Regions from separate parts of the Homo sapiens genome. Here all the other regions are linked to region 1. The links come from fine-mapping of genetic effects on gene expression. A gene starts in region 1. Each other region holds a variant in brackets. All regions are shown on one strand. Distances are from middle to middle. Region 1 holds the start of LTA4H (leukotriene A4 hydrolase). Region 2 has its middle 20 kb from the start of TRD-GTC2-8. Region 3 overlaps LTA4H (leukotriene A4 hydrolase). Region 4 overlaps LTA4H (leukotriene A4 hydrolase).

The links. PIP is the estimated chance that this variant, and not a neighbour inherited with it, causes the effect.
Region 2: its variant is fine-mapped to the expression of LTA4H in whole blood (INTERVAL, PIP above 0.99).
Region 3: its variant is fine-mapped to the expression of LTA4H in whole blood (INTERVAL, PIP above 0.99).
Region 4: its variant is fine-mapped to the expression of LTA4H in whole blood (INTERVAL, PIP 0.95).

What each region holds. Positions count from the first base shown.
Region 1 is chr12:96,034,302-96,036,989 of GRCh38, forward strand. LTA4H (leukotriene A4 hydrolase) reads right to left here and starts at 1,286. Exons shown (of 19, transcript NM_000895.3): 1 at 1,060-1,286. The coding sequence starts at 1,218. It overlaps TRD-GTC2-8 (tRNA-Asp (anticodon GTC) 2-8), which reads left to right and starts at 1,720; the gene lies at 1,720-1,791. RefSeq lists enhancers at 385-474, 1,065-1,484, 1,925-1,974, 1,995-2,044 and a silencer at 915-1,014.
Region 2 is chr12:96,054,529-96,057,216 of GRCh38, forward strand. No RefSeq gene overlaps it. Among named protein-coding and RNA genes, the nearest start is that of TRD-GTC2-8, 20 kb to the left of the region's middle. The variant A/G (reference allele first, on the strand shown) is at 1,190.
Region 3 is chr12:96,013,944-96,016,631 of GRCh38, forward strand. It overlaps LTA4H (leukotriene A4 hydrolase), which reads right to left. Exons shown (of 19, transcript NM_000895.3): 11 at 1,640-1,751; 12 at 912-1,056. Among named protein-coding and RNA genes, the nearest start is that of HAL, 19 kb to the left of the region's middle. The variant T/A (reference allele first, on the strand shown) is at 1,255.
Region 4 is chr12:96,008,989-96,011,676 of GRCh38, forward strand. LTA4H (leukotriene A4 hydrolase) reads right to left here. Exons shown (of 19, transcript NM_000895.3): 15 at 106-160. It overlaps LOC102723340 (a long non-coding RNA gene), which reads left to right. Exons shown (of 4, transcript XR_945237.4): 4 at 973-2,688. Among named protein-coding and RNA genes, the nearest start is that of HAL, 14 kb to the left of the region's middle. RefSeq lists enhancers at 1,424-1,593, 2,226-2,395. The variant C/T (reference allele first, on the strand shown) is at 1,128.

The DNA.
Region 1 (2,688 bases):
ATGAAATTCTTCAGGTGAAAGGTACCTTCAGATGAAAGGTATAAACCAAATACTATTGGGCAATTTGAGCAAGAACATTAAATATAGGTTATGATACAGATAAAATCATTGAATAATATTCCATGAATCTACAACCTTTCTTCATTCCAATGGTTATAGAGTTTGTAGAAGTATGTGTTTTCTAAGTGAAATAACTACTTGGCTCCTTGGAACCAACTATTAAAAAAGCGTATTGAATCATCCTTAGAAAATTTGAACGTCCCATCCGTTCTTAAATTATTAGAAGAAAGTTGATAAGATTAAAAAGTAGAAAGGACCCTGAAGAGAGAGAGCTGCGCCTAGAGTTAGCAAGCAGGGACTGTTAGTTTCAAAGTAGGGCGGAAAGAAGAGGCCTGCCCGGCCGGGGCTGGAAATCCTAAGAGGCTTGAGAACGACTAGCAGGGAGATCCAGGGAACTAGGAGGGAGACGGATGGGTGGTGCCCTGCAGACCTGTGGATTGAAATAAGTGTTCCCGGGAGGCAACCGTGGGATCAGGGATCGACAGGACATGGGATCTGAGACTTGGGTGAGATTGTTGACTGAGGAAGGTGCCCAGGGGGCTGGGAAAAGTCTGGGGCCTGAAGAAGGGGGTTCTGGGCCGCAGGCCGAAGCAATGGGGAGGCCATGGAGTAATTAGAGCCAGGAACTAAAATTATGGGGGCTACTGCAAAGATGACACCTAAGGGCTGGGTGAGTTGAGAGGAGTGGACGAGGCGCTGGATGTGCCCAGGGACCTCGGAGAGAGGATCCAGGCGAGGGGCGGAGGAGACATACGTATAAGTGGGGGCTGAGGGAAGGGATGCAGAGGCGTAAGCGGGGTTGAGAAGGGGTGCTGTGAGAGATCTGGGGGCTGAAGTGCACAACATGAGTTGGATGGAGGCTACAGAAGAGCAGACGGGGACGTGGGGCTAGGCAGGGGCCGCGGCGGGGTGAGCCGGAGATCCGGGAGCCCGCAAGGACTAGGGTCGAGGGGCAGGGAGCCCGGGAGAGGCGGGCACTGGGCAGGCGCCCCACTGTACCAGGCTGCGCAGATTGTCCTCCTGAGACTGGACCGTGAGAGCAGCAGTCCCGGTCAGCGTCCGGCGAGTAAAGTCGACGCTGCAGCGCAGGTGCAGGTGCTTGGTCCGGCAGACGGAAGCCGGAGAGGCCAACGAACAGGTATCCACTATCTCGGGCATGGCTCTGGGGGATCACACAGCACAGCGACCTACAGCCCAACGCTCAGCTACCAGACTCGTCGATAGAGAACCTGAGGAGGAGGGAGAGAGGTAAAGAAGAGGAGGAGGGATTCGCGGTGCACGCCGGGAAAGGAAGTTTCTTAAAGTCAGACGAGCGTTGGGGGATGGGTGAAGGAACTACAAGTTCCATGGTGCCGCGCGGCAAGCGGGCGCTTGGCTACCTGGGAGCGTGTGTGTTAGGGATGTTGAGGGGGACCAAGCGTGCTCCTGGAGCTGAAGAAGAGGAGGGGAGTAGGGGCAGTTAGAAGGGTGGCCGAAGGGAAATGATGAGAATGGAGGGGGAGATAAAACTGAACACTACCATTTTGGCTCTGTTCAACTTTCGTGGAAGCTGTGGTGGCAAACGTAAGAAAATCAGGTTCATTGGTGTTTGCATATAGCGAGGGCGGGGCGGAGCAAAAACGTAGAAAAGGCCTATCAGAAGGCTTTCTTTCGTGCGGTTCCTCGTTAGTATAGTGGTGAGTATCCCCGCCTGTCACGCGGGAGACCGGGGTTCGATTCCCCGACGGGGAGGCACAGTAATTGTTTTTTGTTTTTAGCTGTAAGTAATTCAAGGTTTAAACAGTTGTTTTGTCAGTTTCAGTGTTTATTATGTATATCCCCAGAACCTGCATCTCTCAAACGGAGAAAGCCAACATTCCCATCTTAGAAACTAATGAATTTCTATAAAAGTTATGCACTGGTCGCAATGGGAGTACAGAGCTGGGACATCTAGCTCAGCTCTGGGGCCTTTGTGGCAGGTGAAGGAGGATTGAAGGATGCCTTGCCTTTAGGGTGGGGCCTCAAAATTAAAACTGGAAAAATTGGAAGAGGCTAGGTTTCGAAGGACCTTAAATAGGTGGCCTTTTAATCCTGGGTGCATTAATGGGGGACCCACTGAAGAGTTTTCAGCAGGCGACTGATAAAGCATGGTCAGACTCATGTTATAAAATGCGGTATCAAAACCATTAGCAGGAGATTTAGGAAACTATTAAAATGGCTCAATCAGAAGATGCTGGGGGCCTGACATAGGTAAGTAGTAAGTTAGGATAGAGAGGAAGGAATGAATAGAAGGAATACTTATATAAGTGGATTCACAGATTGAGAGGAGACGAAGGTGGCCCAGGCTTTCGGCTTCAGTGGCTGGCTAGTCATTAACCAGAGGTAGTAGTCTATATGAAGAGGACAGTATGTTAGGCTGTACTTGCATTGCTATAAATACCTGAGACTGGGAAGAAAAGGGGTTTAATTGGTTTACAGTTACGCAGGCTGTACAGGAAGCATAGCTCCAGTATGCTTCCAGGTAGGCCTCAGGAAGCTTACAATCATGGCAGAAGGTGAAGAAGGGGCAGGCCTCTACATGGCCCGAGCAAGAGCAAGAGATTGCGGGGCCGGTGCCACACACTTAAACAATCAGATCCCACAAGACAC
Region 2 (2,688 bases), 20 kb after region 1:
AAAATGTGGAACTGTGGGATAACAGTGTAACAACACTATGACTACAAACAGGGAAATTTATATATGAGAAGGAACTGGATTGTATGTTACCTATATAAATGATCATGAGAAAGTCATGTTGTTCTTTTGTTGTGATCTTTTAAACCAAATTTATAGTGCATTGAACCAAGTAATTGTAGGCCATTATTTTAAAGTAGGTTGTAGCACAGCATGAATTAATAATCACACCAATTTTATTTTACTTCATTGGATTTATTTAGCAATTGTTTTTAGCACTTCCTATATCCCAGGCCCTCTTCTACGCACTTTAAATGTATTAACACATTTCAATTAATCCTGGCAACAGCCTGAGAGGTAGGTACTATTACTATTCCCATTTTACAGATGGTGAACTGAAGCATGGTGCAATTAAGTAAGCAGCCAAGATTCAACCGGAATTCAAACCAAGCAATCAGGCTCCACAACCTGCCTTTTTAATCTGGCTCTCTGCCTTGTGCAAAAAGATGGTGAGTTAGTCCGTTCTCGCACTGCTATAAAGAAATATCTGCTGGGCGCGGTGGCTCACGCCTGTAATCCCAACACTTTGGGAGGCCGAGGCGGGTGGATCATGAGGTCAGGAATTCAAGGCCAGCCTGGCCAAGATGGTGAAACCCGTCTCTACTAAAAATACAAAAATTAGCCAGGTGTAGTGGCAGGCATCTGTAATCCTACCTACTTGGGAGGCTGAGGCAGAGAATTGCTTGAACCCGGGAGGCAGAGGTGGCAGTGAGCCGAGATTGCGCCACTGCACTCCAGCCTGGGTGACAGAGCAAGACTCCATCTCAAAAAAAAAAAAAAAGAAGAAGAAGCCAGGCACGGTGACTCATACCTGTAATCCCAGGACTTTGGGAGGCCGAGGCGTGTGGATCACGAGGTCAGGAGTTCAAGACCAGCCTGGCTTATGGTGAAACCCCATCTCTACTAAAAATACAAAAATTAGCTGGGTGTGGTGGCAGGCGCCTGTAATCCCAGCTACTCGGGAGGCTGAGGCAGAAGAATCACTTGAACCCAGGAGGCGGAGGTTGCAGTGAGCCGAGATCGCACCACTGTACTCCAGTCTGGGTGACAGAGCAAGACTCTATCTCAAAAAAAAAAAAAAAAAAAAAAAAAACCCTGAGAGTGGGTAATTTACAAAGAAAGGAGATTGGCC[A/G]GGCGCGGTGGCTCATGCCTGTAATTCCAGCACTTTGGGAGGCCGAGGCGGGTGGATCACGAGGTCAGGAGATGGAGACCATCCTGGCTAAAATGGTGAAACCCCGTCTCTACTAAAAAAAAATACAAAAAATTACCCGGGTGTGGTGGCGGTTGCGTGTAGTCCCAGCTACTCCGGAGGCTGAGGCAGGAAAATGGCATGAACCCGGGAGGCGGAGCTTGCAGTGAGCCAAGATTGCACCACTGCAGTCCGGCCTGGGCGAAAGAGCGGAAATCCGTCTCAAAAAAAAAAAAAAGAAAGAAAAGAAAAGAAAAGAAAGGAGGTTTAATTGGCTCATGGTTCTGCAGGCTTCACAGGAATCCTGGTGGCTTCTGCTTCTGGGGAGGCCTCAGGAAGCTTCCAATCACGGCGGAAGGCAAAGGGGGTGCGAGGTGTCTCACATAGTGGGAGCAAGAGCAAGAGAGAGCTAGAGAGGAGGTGATGTACACTTTTAAAAAACCTAATCTCACAAGCACTCACTCACTATCACGGGAACAGCACCAAAGGAACAGCACCAAGGCGATGATGCGAAACCATTCATGAGAAATCCGCCCCCATGATCCAATCACCTCCCCGCCAGGCCCCACCTCCAACACTGGGGACTACAATTCCACATGGATTTGATGGGAACACACACCCAAGCCATGTCTGATGGACACATAGTTTATTTTCTTTTGTGACTCTGCATAGGCCATTCTTGCCACTGGGACCCCTTCCCTCCCAATCCTCCTGGCTTTCCCTGCCTGTCAGCAAACTCCTGCTCCTTTTTCAAGCATCAACTCGGATTTACCCTCTGCTGTGATGTCTTCTGTGACTCACATGCAGATTTAGGCACCTGTTTATTGTGTTCTCAATATATCTTACCCATACTATAGAAATATTTGTTGTTTTTTATCTACCTAGTGTTAAATTAAATAAGCACGAGGCCATTGGCCAGAGGCCCTCTCCATATTTTGAGTTTCTGTGGAACAAACAGCAACCTAATAGTATGTAAACAAACTGAAACCTAATTTAGGAGTATATTTTTGTAACATATAGCCTGGTTTCAGCCAATCACAGAGAAGCTTCAGCCAATAATAAGCATCCAATTGATGAGACCACGCCCAATAAGGCAGATGCCTAGCTGTTGCCGATCAAGTGGTTTCTCTACATTGCTTTTGTGTTCACCCTAGAAAAGCTCATTGCTCACACTGCCAAGTGGAGTTTTCTGAACCTCTTCTGGTTCTGAGTGCTGCCTGATTCATGAATCATTCTTTGCCCAAATAAACTCTGTTAAATTTAATTTGTCTAAACTGTTTCTTTTAACACTAGCTTCTATTCCGCCTTCTCTGACAAGCGTTCAGGAACCCACCCCACCCCCACCCCGTACTTTGGGTGTAGCCCATGTGATTTAAGTCTAGCCAATCAGAGCACTAAGGAGCTACAGTTCAGAGGTGATCATGAGACCCAGGTTCATCGAA
Region 3 (2,688 bases), 20 kb before region 1:
AGAACAGAGAACATTCAGAGAATAGGGAAATCTACGAGGACTTTCAGAGTGAAAGAATGTTCAAAAAAGGAGGTGGGACTTAAGTTGGGCCTTGAAGAATATATGTAATTCAGTGGAAGGGAGAAGAGAAATTCTAATTATAGGTAAGGGGATAACACATGAAGACACAGAAAAGGAATGCATAACCCAAGTTCTAAAAGCAATAACCTTCACATGACTAGAAAGGAGAAAAATAAGACTGGACAGGCAGAATGGATCCAGGTGACAGACAGCCTTCCAAGTCAATCAACCAAGGAGAACACCTCAATGTCCATCAGTGGGGGATGGGTACATAACTCAGCATAGCTTTATCATGAACTAGTATGATGGCATTAAAAAGTATGAAACAGATTTATATGTACTGACACAGAAGGGTGTATGTGAAATATCGAGCAAAACAAAACACAAATGCAGAGCCAATATATAGCATGACCCATTTTTTGTAATTAAAATAATTACATGTATTTATTTGTCTGCTTGTTAATTTACACCTAGAAAATGATCTGGAGCCATTTACACCAAACTGCTAACAGTGGTTACCCCTGGGGAGTGGAAAGGGGTTGATGGACTCTCACTTGTTACTCTTATAAACTTCTGTACCATAGAAATGTTTTCAGGGAATACACACTATTATCCTAATTTCAAAAACTGATGAGATTTTTTAAAAAATGAAGCAGCATAATTTAAACCTTAGGGGTTATTAATGGTTTTAAGTTGAGAGGTAACTCAGAAAACAATACAGATTTCTTCAGCAGCTACATCCAGAATGAATTGGAAGTATTAAATGGAACAAAACAATAGTTTACAATTCTTCCTAATTCTCACATTACCCTCAAAAAGAAAAAAAAAATCATAAAATACCAACTACTTACCTGGTCCTCCAAGCAGTTGTTCAAGGTAAAAAAGTAAAGCAAAGCCCTTCTCATAGGGAACTGAAGAATAAGCTACATCAGGGTCTATATCTGTCAGATCAACCACAAGTTTGGTGAAAGGATGTGTCTCCCCAAATGTCTTTACCTGCAAGACATGAAATAACATGGAGAAACATATAGAAAGACTGCTATCACCACGCAAATAAGCTAATAAGGAGGTATTACTTCACTCAGTGGTGTAACTTTAGGGGAATCTAAAACTTGGAGACTGGAACACTAGGATATGTTGGCATAAACTTCTGGAAGTCTATTAATAGAATGCTTACTTAAGTAATATTCTCTG[T/A]TGTTTCTTGCTCAATAATACAGGCTTTATTCTTATAAAAAGACTAGAAAAATGATTTAATGCCTGGTCAGCAAATTTGGCTTTCAGGAGACAACACTTAAAAATGACATACCAAATAAGATGCAAACATAGTAAACAGCTATATTAATAGCAAAGACCCAGTGAGGTCCCACAGCTCCCTATTTAGACCAGGTCATCAAAACTACCTTACATAGAACAGTGAACAGTGTGGATCAACACAGTGTTATACCAGCATTGACTTCACTTTCCACACTTGTAAAAATGACTTTTTGGTTGCTACACAGTAAAGACGCTTTTATAAAAACTCAGTTTTTAACACCTATACAACTTTGGATGAAGGTTTTTAAAACTTTGACTCCTTTACCGAATTCTGTAGTTCTCCCCATCCTCCCAGAGCATTAAAATGTCTGAACTTTTCACCAAACAATCGTCCGCAAATGTGGCGTTCCAAGTACACAGTATGTCCCTCATTTAACCTGAAAAAAAAATATTTTAATAAAAACACGGACACAGCTGAGAAGAAAAGACATTTCAATCAAGATATTTTCTTTTTGGCTTTTCTACAGAGGAAAGCAGTTGTAAGGCATGACCACTACAGTCTAAGCCGACTCTGGCTCCCAGGCAGTCAATCCAGAGCAATGGGAAGCCCAGCCCAGCAGATGGCAGCAGGGAAAGTTAAGCCCTGCTTCTGCTCTTGCATGTCCCTATGTTAAAAGTGGGAGTATATCAGGAATTAAACTTAACACCTAGACTGAACCTAACACTCCTAACGCTGTAATAAGTGTTACAGAATTTTTAAGAACTATCCTTGTTGGCCGGGCATGGTGGCCCACGCCTGTAATCCTAGCACTTTGGGAGGCCGAGGCGGGAGAATTATCTGAGGTCAGGAGTTCAAGACCAGCCTGGCCAACATGGTGAAACCCCGTCTCTACTAAAAATACAAAAATGAGCTGAGCATGGTGGCGTGCACCTGTAGTCCCAGATACTCGGGAGGCTAAGGCACAAGAATTGCTTGAACTGAGAGGCAGAGAGATCACACTACTGCACACCAGCCTGGGCGACAGAGTGAGACTCCATCTCAAAAAAAAAAAAAAAAAAAAAATCCTTGTTGGCTGGGCGTGGCGGCTTATGCCTATAATCTCAGCACTTTGGGAGGCCGAGGTGGGCGGATCACTTGAGCTCAGGAGTTTGAGACCAGTCTGGGCGACATGGTGAAATCCCATCTCTATAAAAAATACAAAAATTAGCCAGGCATAGTGGCATGCGCCTTTAGTCTCAGCCACTTTGGAGGCTGAGGAGGGAGGATTGCAACCCTGGAGTTGCAGTTAGCAGAGATTGCACCACTGCACTACAGCCTGGGCCACAGAGTGAGACCTTGTCTCCAATTAAAAAAAAAAAATAGCTGGGCATGGT
Region 4 (2,688 bases), 25 kb before region 1:
TTCCAAATATAACTGTTTGTGATTTAAAGTACCCTCCCTGCTTCATGAGTAAAGACATATTTGCACAATTCAAAAAGGAATCAAAAATCACACATTATTACTTACAGTAATCCATCTTTGACTTAAGGCAATACAAGCATTTGTCAGAGTCATATCATAACTGCAAAGATAAAGATTACATTGTTTAAAAATGCACGTGCTTTTGCAGAAATGCAGTTTTAAAGCTACAGTACATACTTAAATTTCAAAGTCCCTTTTAAATAAGGAAAACAAACTCCAAAGTGAGGAAAATAGGAAATATTTTACCTAACTTACATACTACTGGCATCATCCAAGAACTCACAAACCCAAATGGATACCACATTAATGAAACACCCATCTATCTTTTAGAAAGAATGCCAAAGCACCTCAGCAAAAGACTGTCATGTGCTCGAGTAGTATATGCTAAAGTAGTTGGAATCAGTTGAGCATATTTAGTACATGGCAGGAACAGTTCTAGGCACTCAAGACAACAAGATGAACAACATCAAGTCCTTGCTGTCATGGATTTTACTTGGTTGTTCCAAACATCTAATCATCTAACAAACCTGCAAGCACCTGCTACATAATTGGCACCGTTCTAGATGCTAGACCCTTGAGAGAGCCCGATACCATTGCCTGATGATTTCATTCCTTTTTAGAAGAAAATGAAATTAACACATGGTAATTGTTAAGCAAATTATACCAATATTTGTGTGTTCTCAACTTAGAAATCATATTTTGCAACAATGGGAAAGAACATGTAGTGTGTGCAAAATTCTTGCAAAACATCCCTCTTTCTCCGTAAATCATGCTTGCTTGTACTGAAATGCTTGTATTAGGGAACAGAGAGGCACCTGCCCCTTAGAGCCTAAATGAAGTAAGTTTTGATTAGAAGTTACCACTGAATCTCCCTTAAAGAGAGTTGTGACTGGGACTCCGTTTGTTCCCTAGGGGAGACAATAAAAAGGTCAACACAGCTCCCACCTCGAAGCAGCTGCCAGTTTATTACATGAAGTGTCAGGCTGTGGACTGCAGGCATGCCATTTTGTCTTCAAGAACAGGTGGGATCAGAGGTCCTTGACTGATCAGAATACACTGCTTTCAAC[C/T]AAAACATTATTAGCATTGATTTCTTAAAAAATAATAGCAAAGTAGAAAACCTTTAGCTGGTCTGTTTCTTCGTGTCCTGAAACTTCCTTATTAGTGTAATTAAAAGTACTAAGTTAAGAATTAGCCTGGGAAAGGACCCTACTTATGGCAAAGTCTTCAGAAAAGTAAAGAGCAAAACCAGATATGTGCCTTGTTCTCATGGTGCTGACAGTATAGCGAAGAGGAAATACTTTAATCATACGAATAAATAAATGTAAAGTTAGAACTGTGCAACTGCTACGAAGAGAGGATATAGCACTAAAAAGCCCTAGAATGGGAGATTTGACCTGGCCAGGGATGTCAAGAAATGCTTCCAAGAGGAAGTGGTTCTTGAGCTGAGATTGGAATTAACTGGGCAAAGGGCTCCGGGTAGAGAAAACAGCATGCTCAGGTACTATGTTGGAGGACATATGGGGAGTTCGAGAAACTCCAAAACTGCCAGTGTGACTGAAGCAAAGGGAGCTAGAGTGTTAGGAGCTTATAATCCCCACTAAAGGATTTTGTCTTAGCCCAAGAGCAAAGAGATACCAGTGGAGACTGCTAAGCAGGAGGACAACATGACACATTTGTGCTTTTAAAGGTTTACTCTAGCTTTAGTGTGGAGAGTGGCTGGGAGAAGTCAGAACAGATACAAGTGCACAGTTTGGGTGCCAGAACAGTCTTCCAGGATGTGAAGATGTGATACTGAACTTGGACAGTGGTAGTAGAAATGGAGAGATGTGGATAGACTCAGATATTTAAATACATATACAAATGATGAGAGCATTATAAAAAGAGGATCGTGGAAGCCAAGATTCTGTGCTGCAATGGATCAAAGTATTTTCTGTGGTTTGAGATTTTCTAAGATACTCTCTCTTTACAGAATTCCCGGGCACACGAATGATTCCAGGGTTCCTCCAGCACTTTGGTATTACTTGAAAGCAATCTTAAGGGATCTAGAATGAACCAACGCCCAAAAAGGATCCCTTAGCAGCGGTGATATCAAAGAAACACTTTTGAAGAACTAATTTTCCACCCAGATTTCCCCAATTTTAAAAGCAATGGGCAAAGCCTTCTCCACTCCTAAACTTCCTGGAACTGTCTTTTGGCTATATCAGGCCCCTGAAGTTAGAGTCTTTGAAAGACTCCAAACTCCAAATTCTATGCTTTTATTCTCAGGCTCCTCATAATTCTACAGCACACCAGACTGCTGACCACTCTCCGTACCACTTTTAAATTATTTCTTCCCACAGCTTTCTTAACAATGAACCTTTGAAATCTTTTTAGTTTTCCATTTATTTTGCTACCTTTCCTCTGTCCTAGCTCTAAAATGAAGATCCTCTAAGGTTCTACAGTTTACTTCTTGTATTCTCCTTTGTAAGTCATCTCCAAGACGATGTCCAAATCCATCACCATTAAAATTAATAGTTTCCTCACCCACAACACTTAATATTTTAAAAAAAATACTTTTCATTGTATTATAATTACTTGATACATACATATTTGCTCTGTGAGTTCCTTATTCATCATATTAGTGCCTGA